Linked DNA regions of Homo sapiens: region 2 is linked to region 1. Evidence: fine-mapped expression QTL. A gene starts in region 1. The other region holds a variant in brackets. All regions are shown on one strand. Distances are between the middles of the regions. Region 1 holds the start of GPR141 (G protein-coupled receptor 141). Region 2 has its middle 34 kb from the start of GPR141.

Region 1 (5,390 bases):
TTCTAGACTTATCTTCAGACATGGCTTTTAATAGTTATTGAAATTTGGACATTGTGTTTAAAAAGTTTGAGAGTCAATTCATTGATCTGGTTAGTGTTATCGTCCTCCAGAGAGTATTTACTTTTGCTTGATGTGTGTGAGGAGGTCGTTATGACGATGGCAAATCTCCTATCTATTCAGTGATTGTCTACCTAATTCAGCAATTTAGGTGATTTGAAATTGGGCTCCCACTTTGTGATGGTACAATATTTTTAGCACATGCTGTCTCCTAGGGTGTAGCCCTTCAGGGGTCCTAACTGAAAATTTGAGGTAATTATAAGGGCACCACCTCCTTGGTGGTCTCTGTTTGCTTCTTAAACTAGATTTCCTTAACTTCTGAGCATCTTAGCCACTGTATTTCACCTGTTTCTTCACCTCTCAGTGTCCAGTTTCAAATCAGCAGTGCCTTGAGTAAAAAGTACTCAGGAGTTGAAAATCAGATTCACTGATTTGTACTTCCTGTCTTCTGGGGATTTTATTTCTTCAAGGTGTCATTGCCTGGGCAGCTTTCTGAAGCCTTCAAACTTATAGGTTTTGCATTCTGTTCATTTTTGTAAGCTGCTCTCAGCAGGAGGGTTTGTCAGCAACAATCTTCTCTACAACTAATAAAGCTTGAAATATCTCTAGCATGAGTTATTTTGAAGCAGATAGCATTTTAACTCATATGGCAGAAAGAACGCACATCTGCTGAAATTGAAGAGTTTCCTGATGCAGAGGCCTTCTCTTCAAACTAAGAAACAAAGTTGGAAGCACTTAGAACATTATGTTTGGAGTAAGAAATGTGAATACTGATGAAAACAGAACTGCAAAAATTTCGCCTAAAATAATGAGTGTTTTAGCACTGTAAAGAATACCAGGAATCACCCCAAATTACCAAAGTTATCATTCTACTTAGGGACCTTAAAATAGAAAGAACCCAGGGCCAGTATCATTTTGATGCCTTTTAAAATTTCTTTTTGAAATAGTGAAATGTCACAATGGATTTTAAAAATAGGGGAATGTTGAAAATGTTGATATTTAATAAATTAGTACTTTTTAATTGACCAATTTCTATATAATATTAACATGCTGTCTACATCAGGAGTTCTCAACCCCTGGGCCACAGACCAGCAGTGGTTCGTGGCCTGTTAGGAACTGGGCTGTACAGAAGGAGCGGAGCAGTGCACGAGTGGGCCAGCAAAGTTTCGTCTATATTTACAGCTGCTCCCCATCACTTGCATTACTGCCTGAGCTCCACCTCCTGTTAGATCAGCAGCGGCATTAGATTCTCATGGGAGCATGAACCTTATTGTTGAATTGTCCATGCTAGGGATCTAGGTTGCAGTGTTCCTTATGAGAATCTAATGTCTGATGATCTATCATTGTCTTCCATCACCCCCAAATGGGACCATCTAGTTGCAGAAAAACAACCTCAGGGCTTCCACTGATTCTACATTATGATGAGTTGTATAATTATTTCATTATATATTATCATGTAATAACAATTGAAATAAAGTGCGCAATAAATGTAATGTGCTTGAATCATCCAGAAAACATCCCCACCCCTGTCTGTGGAAAAATTGTCTTCCATGAAACCTTTCCCTGGTGCCAAAAAAGGTTGGGGACCACCGATTTACATAATTAGAAAGTTTATAAAATCCTAATTTATAGAGTGGTCATCAAATGGTAGGAAAGTTCAAGCAGTTTGAGGAACTGATGTTTTTTTTTCTCAATACTTGCAGTGCATCTCTATGACTGTATGGGCAGCTTCTTCTGGAGATAATGTTGACAGTCTAAAAAGTTAAGCTGTGACGATTTACTCCCCTCCCCTGCCCCTATAGCACACTCTGATTTTAAATATTTTCTCTCTTAATTCTAATTAAATGACATAATTATAGTGCCATATCCCAGTCAATGCCATTTATCAGTGACAGCTAATTAACACAATTATAAAAGTGGGAGCCCTAAGTTACCAGTGAGGTATAGAGCAACTCTGGAAATTTTCTCCTTACTGAAAGGAAATATTACACATATTCCTTCACCAGAAGAACAATACACAGTTTACCTTCCCTTTTTGTTTTTGATAATACCACTTTGTTCCCCATTCTCTACAAAATTTAGTTTGAAGAACATTTTAAAAACTTGATTCATCGTAGTCATCAATCCTTCATAAATATTTCTTGACAATTGGCCTCTCTGTAGTTTGCAACCTGGACTACTCATGTTTAAGAGCTTGGTTTTTCAAGACTATTGTGTTTCAAATGGTTTTGAGGTTTTATGGTCTGTTGACATTCTGAGGAACTTAGAACACATTCACTTCCTTTTGCTTGGTGAGCTGTCCAGAGCCTTTGCAAATGCATGCAGAGCATGGAAATGACCCAGCTGCCCTGCTGTTGAAACAGAATCCTATTTGGAAGGCAGACATGTGGCCCATCTCTGTAGCCATCACTGAGAAATCTGGATTTTCAAGGTAAGTGCAGATGACTTAGGTTTGGGGAGACATGAATGAAAGTGCTATAGAAATAAAGCACACTTAATTTGTTGGCATAGTCCTAATTCAGAATCTTCAAATGGTTCTGCTCTAAAAAGCAAGCTTATTCTCTGACCACAACTCCTCCTTTATAGAAAGAATTGTTCTATTCTTACTGCTTAGGATATGCTGCTCTGAAAGTAAAACCTAATATTTATGGGTAAATGTGAACAAAAATGATTTCAGAATCTCTCTGTCAAAAAACCAGCTAAACATATCATAGAATTTTTTAGAGCAGTTGGCACTATTGAATTTGTGTATAATTATTCAAATGCTTATCTTTTAAGTGATGTCTTAATTTCCTTTTGTTATGAAAATCCTTTAACTCTATTACTGCATTATTTTCAGATAGAGTTTGAAACTATTCAGGCAGCCCTAGTCAATAGAAGGAAACAATCTGTAAGCAATCAAGTACTTAGAAATTTCTAAAAGAAGTATATTCAAAATAACATGTGAAATAATGGTAATTATAATTCTTTCCATCCCACTTTTAAAGTACTACTTAACAGGAAGGATCTGAAAATAACTTCTTAAATAAGATAAATAAAAAGAACAACATCTGTTCAAATAATTTTACTTTAAGTAAAATACTTTCTATACCAGTATTTTCTACTTCCAAGAAGTAATATTTTTCAAATATGTGGAATGAAATATAATGCAAAGTTTTTAAACAATAAGTCAGTAATGCCTAACCTGAATATAGGCATTTAATTTTGTTTCTTTTACAAATTTGTTATATGACTTTTGATAGGTCACTTAATTCTCTGGACTTCAGCGTTCTACATAACTGCACAATTACTTATCTGAGAAATTACTTATTAAGTACTCCAGAATTACATGTCTTTGTTTTCTGTTTTATTGGGTTTAAATCAGTTAATTAGGATTTTAATCAGTCAATAGAAGTAATGGGAAGACCAATGGATGAGGAATCAGGTGGTGTGAATTCTAGTCCTCTGTTTTCTAGTAATTGGCTGCATAATTTGGGGGAATATTGTCTAAGGATTCCAGACCAGGGGTTGGCAAACTTTTTCTACAAAAGCCTTGATAGTAAATATTTTAGGCTTTGCAAGCCAAGAGGTAGAACTGAGGCTAATATATTGGTACTTACATAACCATTTAAAACTATAAAAACCATTCGTAGCTCACAGGCTGTATAAAAACAAGAAGTGAGCCAGCTTTGGCTTAGGTGACACAATTTTCCAACTATTCTTCTAGCAATGATTTTCAACAATTATAAAATGGAAGTTGTAGACTGGATAAGAGATGCTCAGCTAAGGGAGTTCCTGGATGGTCTTTAGATTGATACACCAATCCTCTGAAATTGCATGCAAAAATGTAAGTGTGTGTTTTTCTTTTCTTCCTTTTGTGCGTGTGTGTGTTTCTCTCCCTCCCTCCTTCCTTCCTGCCTGCCTGCCTGCCTGCCTGCCTGCCTTCCTGCCTTCTTCCCTCCCTCCCTCCCTCCATCTCTCTCTCTCTTTCTCTCTTTCTTTCTTCAGGGCCTTTCTCTCTGTTGCCCAGGCTGGAGTTTAGCGACTCAATCATGGCTCACTGACTGCAGCATCGACCTCCGGGGCTCAAGTGATCCTTTCATCTCAGCCTCCTCAGTAGCTGAGACTACAGGTACTTGCCACCACACCTGGCTAATTAATTAATTTTTTTTTTTAAATAGAGACAGGGTCTTGCTCATGTTGCCCAGGTTAGTCTCAAACTCCTGGGCACAAGTGATCCTCCTGCCTTGGCTTTTCAGAGTACTGGGATAACAAACATGAGCCACTGTGCCTGGCAGCACTTTTTTTTTTTTTTTTTTTTTTTTAAATAAGAAAAACACGGATTGATTTTCAAAGTGGTCCAAAATCCAATTGTAGTTAAGGACCACAGGTCTAGCTAATTTCTAAAAGTGCTTTCCAAATTTAAAATCAATGAGCCTGTGAAATGTTTACTGGTGTCTACTATGGGTAAGCCATTGTGCTAGCACTATAAGAGACGTAGCATGTTGTGACTAAAATAATGTGTTAAATATATTGTTAAATAATATGTTAAAAAATATATTTTTGGGACAGGGCCTCGCTCTGTCTCCAAGGCAGGAGTGCAGTGGCACAATCACAGCTCACTGAAGCCTTCACCTCCTGGAATCAAGTGGTCCTCTCACTTCAGCCTTCCGAATAGCTGGGAGTGCAGGTGTGAGCCACCCTGCCTGCCTTTTTTTTTTTTTTTTTTCTTTAGAGAGGGGGTCTCACTATGTTGCCAAGGCTGGTCTCAAATCCCTGGGCTCAAGCAGTCTTCCTGACTCAGACTCAGACTAAAAATATTTTAAAGAAGTTAGAATATGTGCAAGTCTGTGCTGTCTTTCAAAGTAATAACATTGAAAACAATTTTCAATTGATCAAAGATTTCTGAGACATTGCTTTGCAAAGTGTTTTCAAAGCTAGTTCATACGTTATACCAAAGTATTTTCCAAATTATGTTATTGTCCCATCTTATTTTGAATGACAATGTTATTATTCGTGACAGTCATAATCAAACTTAATCTAAGCATAGTCTGTTTCCTAAAAACATAATTTCCTTAAGGGCAGGAACTATGCCTTTGCTACCTTTATATTTTAGAACAGGGTTTGACCCATAATAAGTACCCAGCATCTTTGGAATGGTTATATGAGTGAATAAGTGAATGAAATGATGAAGGTATTATCATGGAGATTACGTACCATAGATAGTGAAGGCTTGGAACTCCAGATGGTCTAAAAGCAGTAGTTGCTAAGTCCAAAGATGGCTTCTCTTTTCAAAATTGGATGTAACTGTGATTTCAAAATAATTGGCCAACTCAATATTGCAGTTCCTGATG
Region 2 (5,390 bases), 35 kb before region 1:
TTGGCCAATGAGACATACCTTGCTGACACCTGAAACAGAGGATAGGCAAAAGAGATTTAATATCTTTTAAAATTGGAGTCTTAGAAGAAGAAATGGAGGTATACAGATATTCTACAATATGATTCAAGGTAATATTCCAAAATATAGAAGGTAACTTGAATCTATGCTTGATAAGGCATATAATGATCTAGGAAAAATAGAGATGTGTCAAAATGGAGAATGATTTCAGTAGACCTATTAGGTTTCCAAGGAAAAAAATCTTTAGGTGAGCCAGACTAAAAGGATCTACTAACTTATAATTAAACAAACAAACAAGCAAGTCGGGTTGTCTCAGATACAACACAACCTTCTAAATCGGTCAAAATATCCTCAGGGAAAAAGTCCTTATGGAAAGAAAGTGAGAAAATATTTTTTTAAAGCCAAGTCAAACTGCCATGCCAATGTGAAGTGGAGAAAGATGTGGTTAAAAACATGCAAATGTCCAGGGAATGTTGTTCCTATAAATATTATCCCTGTGTCTTCTTGAAGACACTACTTGAGATTGTCAACGAATTAAGAGATAAATGGAAACAGTATGGTTAAAGACATGTAAATGTTATAAACTCTGACAATATTAATATGATGTTACTAATAAGAATTAGCAGGTGTTCTAGGCCGGGTGTGGTGGCTCACGCCTGTAATCCCAGCACTTTGGGAGGCCGAGGCAGGCGGATCACGAGGTCAGGAGATCGAGACCATCCTGGCTAACACGGTGAAACCCCGTCTTTACTAAAAATACAAAAAATTAGCCAGGCGTCGTGGCGGGCGCCTGTAGTCCCAGCTACTTGGGAGGCTGAGGCAGGAAAACGGCGTGAACCCAGGAGGCGGAGCTTGCAGTGAGCCGAGATCGCACCACTGCACTCCAGCCTGGGCGAAAGAGCGAGACTCCATCTCAAAAAAAAAAAAAAAAAAAAAAAAAAAAAAGCATTGGTAGGTGCTCAAAATTTCTTGATGGTCTTATCTATCTTTTCATTCCCAGGAACCAAAAGACATCATTTTAAATAAATAAACCAAGTAGTAGAGGAATATGTATATTTAACAACACAAAACACATAATGAGAAGGCAAAAACCAAACTGTTGTGACAGAGGAGATAGGTAAGGAGAAAGGGGGTACTTTCTCAATTAGTCATTGCTCAGAGTGGGGAATTATCAAAATCAGACCAACAAAAGTTTCCTGATATTATATTATTATGAAATAGAAGATTCAGACTATTACTGATATTATAAAAAGCCACAAAGTAACCATTAGAAGAAAAATACAGGCTTTCCAATTATCAGAAGAAGCACATACTCTCAAACAAAACAAAGAGCCCAATAGTCTCAGATTTAAAAACAGAATTATAAAAGCAGAAAGTATGTCACAAAGGAGAGCTAAATCCTAACATAACTATCATACTGATAAATGCAAATTATATTTACATATACATGCTTTAAAAGAAAGAAATTGTTGTATAGGATCACCAAGCAAAAATCAACTCTGTATGGTATATTTCAGACATTTTAACACAAAGTGATTTATAAAGTTGAAAATAAAATATGAAAAATGATAGTAAATGCAAACTAAGTATAAAATCAGAAATTCCTTACTGCTTGGAAATAAAAAAATTTTCTTAACTAACTCATGGTATAGAAGAAATTAAAATGAGATGGCAGAACAATCTAGACATGAAGGCAGCACACAGAGAAACATGCATAGCATTAGGCATTCTTTTTTTTTTTTTTTTTTTTTTTTTTTGGAGAGGGAGTCTCGCTCTGTCACCCAGGCTGGAGTGCAGTGGCACGATCTCGGCTCACTGCAAGCTCCGCCTCCCAGGTTCACGCCATTCTCCTGCCTCAGCCTCCCGAGTAACTGGGACTACAGGCGCCCGCCACCACGCCCGGCTGATTTTATTTTTGTATTTTTAATAGAGACGGAGTTTCACCGTGTTAGCCAGGATGGTCTCGATTTCCTGACCTCGTGATCTGCCCGCCTCGGCCTCCCAAAGTGCTGGGATTACAGGCGTGAGCCACTGTGCCCGGCCAGCATTAGGCATTCTACTAGTAAATAATGAAAGTCAATAAATTAGTCATATAATTCAAGAAGTTAGATTGGGAATAATAGAGATAAAAATTTAAAATAAATTATAAAAGAGAAAAGTGACAGAATTAATTAAAAGTTCTCAGTACTGCTTGTTGAAAAGAAAATGAATCATTAGCTACCCTAATTAAGAAGACAAAAGGCACAAATAGGCAAAAATAAGCAAGGATGAGAAAATAACTATAGAATCAGAGAAAATTAAAAGGATCATGAAGAGCTAATTTACTCTAGCCTATGTTAATAAGTTTGGAAAAGCTAGATGAAATGAATAATTTTCCAGGAAAATATAATTTATCAAAAGTAACTCTAAACAGATATAAAGAAATCTAAATAGCTCAGTTATCTTAGAAGAAATAGAGAAATTTATCTAAAAGCTACCGACTCCCCACAAAAACAAACAAGCAACGATAAAAGCAAACAAAGCAAGTTGAGACACTTCTACCAAACCTTGAAAAATTAAGTAATTTCAGTGCTTCAAACATAGAAAAGGAAGATAAGTCTATAAATTCTTTTGAAGATGAGAGCATAATTGATATCTACACCTAATAATTGCTTAAAAAAGATGAATCTTACTTGAGAATATTGATGCCAAAGTACTACACAAAATATTTAGCAAGTAGGATCCAGTGGCATATTA[C/T]AAAGAAAAGTAGACGATGACCAAGTAGACTTTTTTCCAAGAATGCAGGAAATAGTTCAACATTTGGAAATCTATCACGGAAATTTATTAGATCAATAATACTAACTGGTAAAAATGATATAACCCTCTGTACTATTTGTATAAGTTTCTGAGGATCTACAATTACTTCAAAGCAAAAAAAAATTATTTCTTAATTTAATTTAATATTTTTAGACAGGGTCTCACTCTGTCACCCAGGGTGGAGTGCAGTGGTGCAATCACGGCTCACTGCAGCCTTGACCTCCTGGGCTCAGGGGATCCTTCCACCTCACCTCAGCCTCTGTAGTAGCTGGGATTACACGTGTGCATCACCATGCTGTGCTAATTTTTTTTGTTTGTTTGTGTAGAGATAGAGTTTATCCATGTTACCTAGGCTCCTCTTGAACTCCTGGACTCAGGGGCTCTGCCCACCTTGGCCTCTCAAAATTCTAGGATTACAGGTGTGAGCCATCACACCCAGCTCAAAGGAAAAAATTTTAAAAAGTGACCACTTGTATCAGTGATATTAAAATAACTGATACAATTTTTACATCGCTTTCTGAAAAATAACCTTTAATAAACAAGGAAGAGTAGAATACGCCCTTCCTTCCGTCCTTCCTTCGTTCCTTATTTCCTTCCTTCCTTCCTTTCCTTTTCTTTTGTCATCAGCAGTGTTTTTATTTGTTTGTGTTTTGACTTACAAAAAGCTATACATACTTAATGTAGACAACTTGACAAGTTTGGAGGTAAGCATACACCTATGAAAGAATCAATACAATCTATGCCATGAATATATCCATTACCTCCAAATGTTTCCTCCTCCCCCTCTCTGTTATTATTATTATTGTATGTGTATAATAAGAACACAACAAAATACCCTCTTAGCAATTTTGAATATATAATAAAATATTATTAATATTATTAACTATATGGGCACTATGTTGTACTGTAGATCTCTAGGATTTATTTATCTTGCCTAACTGAAACTTTGTACCCTTTGACTAATACCTCCTTGTTTCCCCCTTTCCCCAGCGCCTGACAACCACCCTTCTTTTTTTTTTTTTTTTTGACATACAGAACGGTACATTGTTTATTGAACTCAAATTTCTAAACAGTACAAAAAAGCCCACCAAGTATATGTTACCATGCAACCCATTTAAAGTCATATTACCTTAGATTTCACTTTAAAGCCATAGCACATTTTATAATTAAAATTTTATGTATGTATCTGGAGTGAAGAAAAGGGGTTCCTAATCCAACATTTTCTAGAGCAGAATTAACAAAAAGCCTCAAGTCTAGACACAAGTAAAAATTAAAAGCGATTTTTAAAAGTATTTGTGAAATTAGGACTTTCTTATGTCAAATTTGAAATGCATCCTATTGTTGTAAAGAATTATTCCACGATTTAAACTGCATTAATGTCTAAAAAGTAAGCTTAGTAAACTCTACAAACTAAAACTATAAAAATATTTTATAATGCTGTAAATATTCTGTTCATACACTGTAAGTGATTACACAACTATTTTTTAAATTTTATTATTCTTTTATTATACTTTAAGTTCTATGGTACATGTGCGTAATGTGCCGGTTTGTTACATATGTGTACATGTGCCATGTTGGTGTGCTGCACCCATTAACTCGTCATTTACATTAGGTATATCTCCTAATGCTATCCCTCCCCGCTCCAACCCCACAGCAGGCCCCGGTGTGTGATGTTCCCCTTCCTGTGTCCAAGTGTTCTCATTGTTCAATTCCCACCTATGAGTGAGAACATGTGGTGTTCGGTTTTTTGTCCTTGTGATAGTTTGCTGAGAATGATGGTTTCCAGCTTCATCCATGTCCCTACGAAGGACATGAACTCATCCTTTTTTATGGCTGCACAGTATTCCATGGTGTATATATGCTACATTTTTGTTAATCCAGTCTATGATTGATGGACATTTGGGTTGGTTCCAAGTCTTGGCTATTGTGAATAGTGCTGCCATAAATATATGTGTGCATGTGTCTTTACAGTAGCATGATTTATAATCCTTTGGGTATATACCCAGTAATGGGATGGCTGGGTCAAATGGTATTTCTAGTTCTAGATACTTGAGGAATCGCCACACTGTCTTCCACAATGGTTGAACTAGTTTATGGTCCCACCAACAGTGTAAAAATGTACCTATTTCTCTGCATCCTGTCCAGCACTTGTTGTTTCCTGACTTTTTAATGACCGCCATTCTAACTGGTATGAGATGGTATCTCATTGTGGTTTTGATTTGCATTTCTCTGATGGCCAGTGATGATGAACATTTTTTCATGTGTCTCTTGGCTGCATAAATGTCTTCTTTTGAGAAGTGTCTGTTCATATCCTTTGCCCACTTTTTGATGGGGTTGTTTTTTTCTTGTAAATTTGTTTGAGTTCCTTGTATATTCTGGATATTAGCCCTTTGTCAGATGGTCAGATGAGTAGATTGCAAAGATTTTCTCCCATTCTGTAGGTTGCCTGTTTAGTCTGATGGTAGTTTCTTTTGCTGTGCAGAAGCTCTTTAGTTTAATTAGATCCCATTTGTCAATTTTGGCTTTTGTTGCCATTGCTTTTGGTGTTTTAGACATGAAGTCCTTGCCCACGCCTA

Evidence for each region.
Region 2: its variant is fine-mapped to the expression of GPR141 in whole blood (INTERVAL, PIP above 0.99).

What each region holds. Positions count from the first base shown.
Region 1 is chr7:37,681,416-37,686,805 of GRCh38, forward strand. It overlaps GPR141 (G protein-coupled receptor 141), which reads left to right and starts at 2,351. Exons shown (of 3, transcript NM_001381946.1): 1 at 2,351-2,488; 2 at 4,045-4,168. RefSeq lists an enhancer at 354-413.
Region 2 is chr7:37,646,813-37,652,202 of GRCh38, forward strand. No RefSeq gene overlaps it. Among named protein-coding and RNA genes, the nearest start is that of GPR141, 34 kb to the right of the region's middle. The variant C/T (reference allele first, on the strand shown) is at 2,755.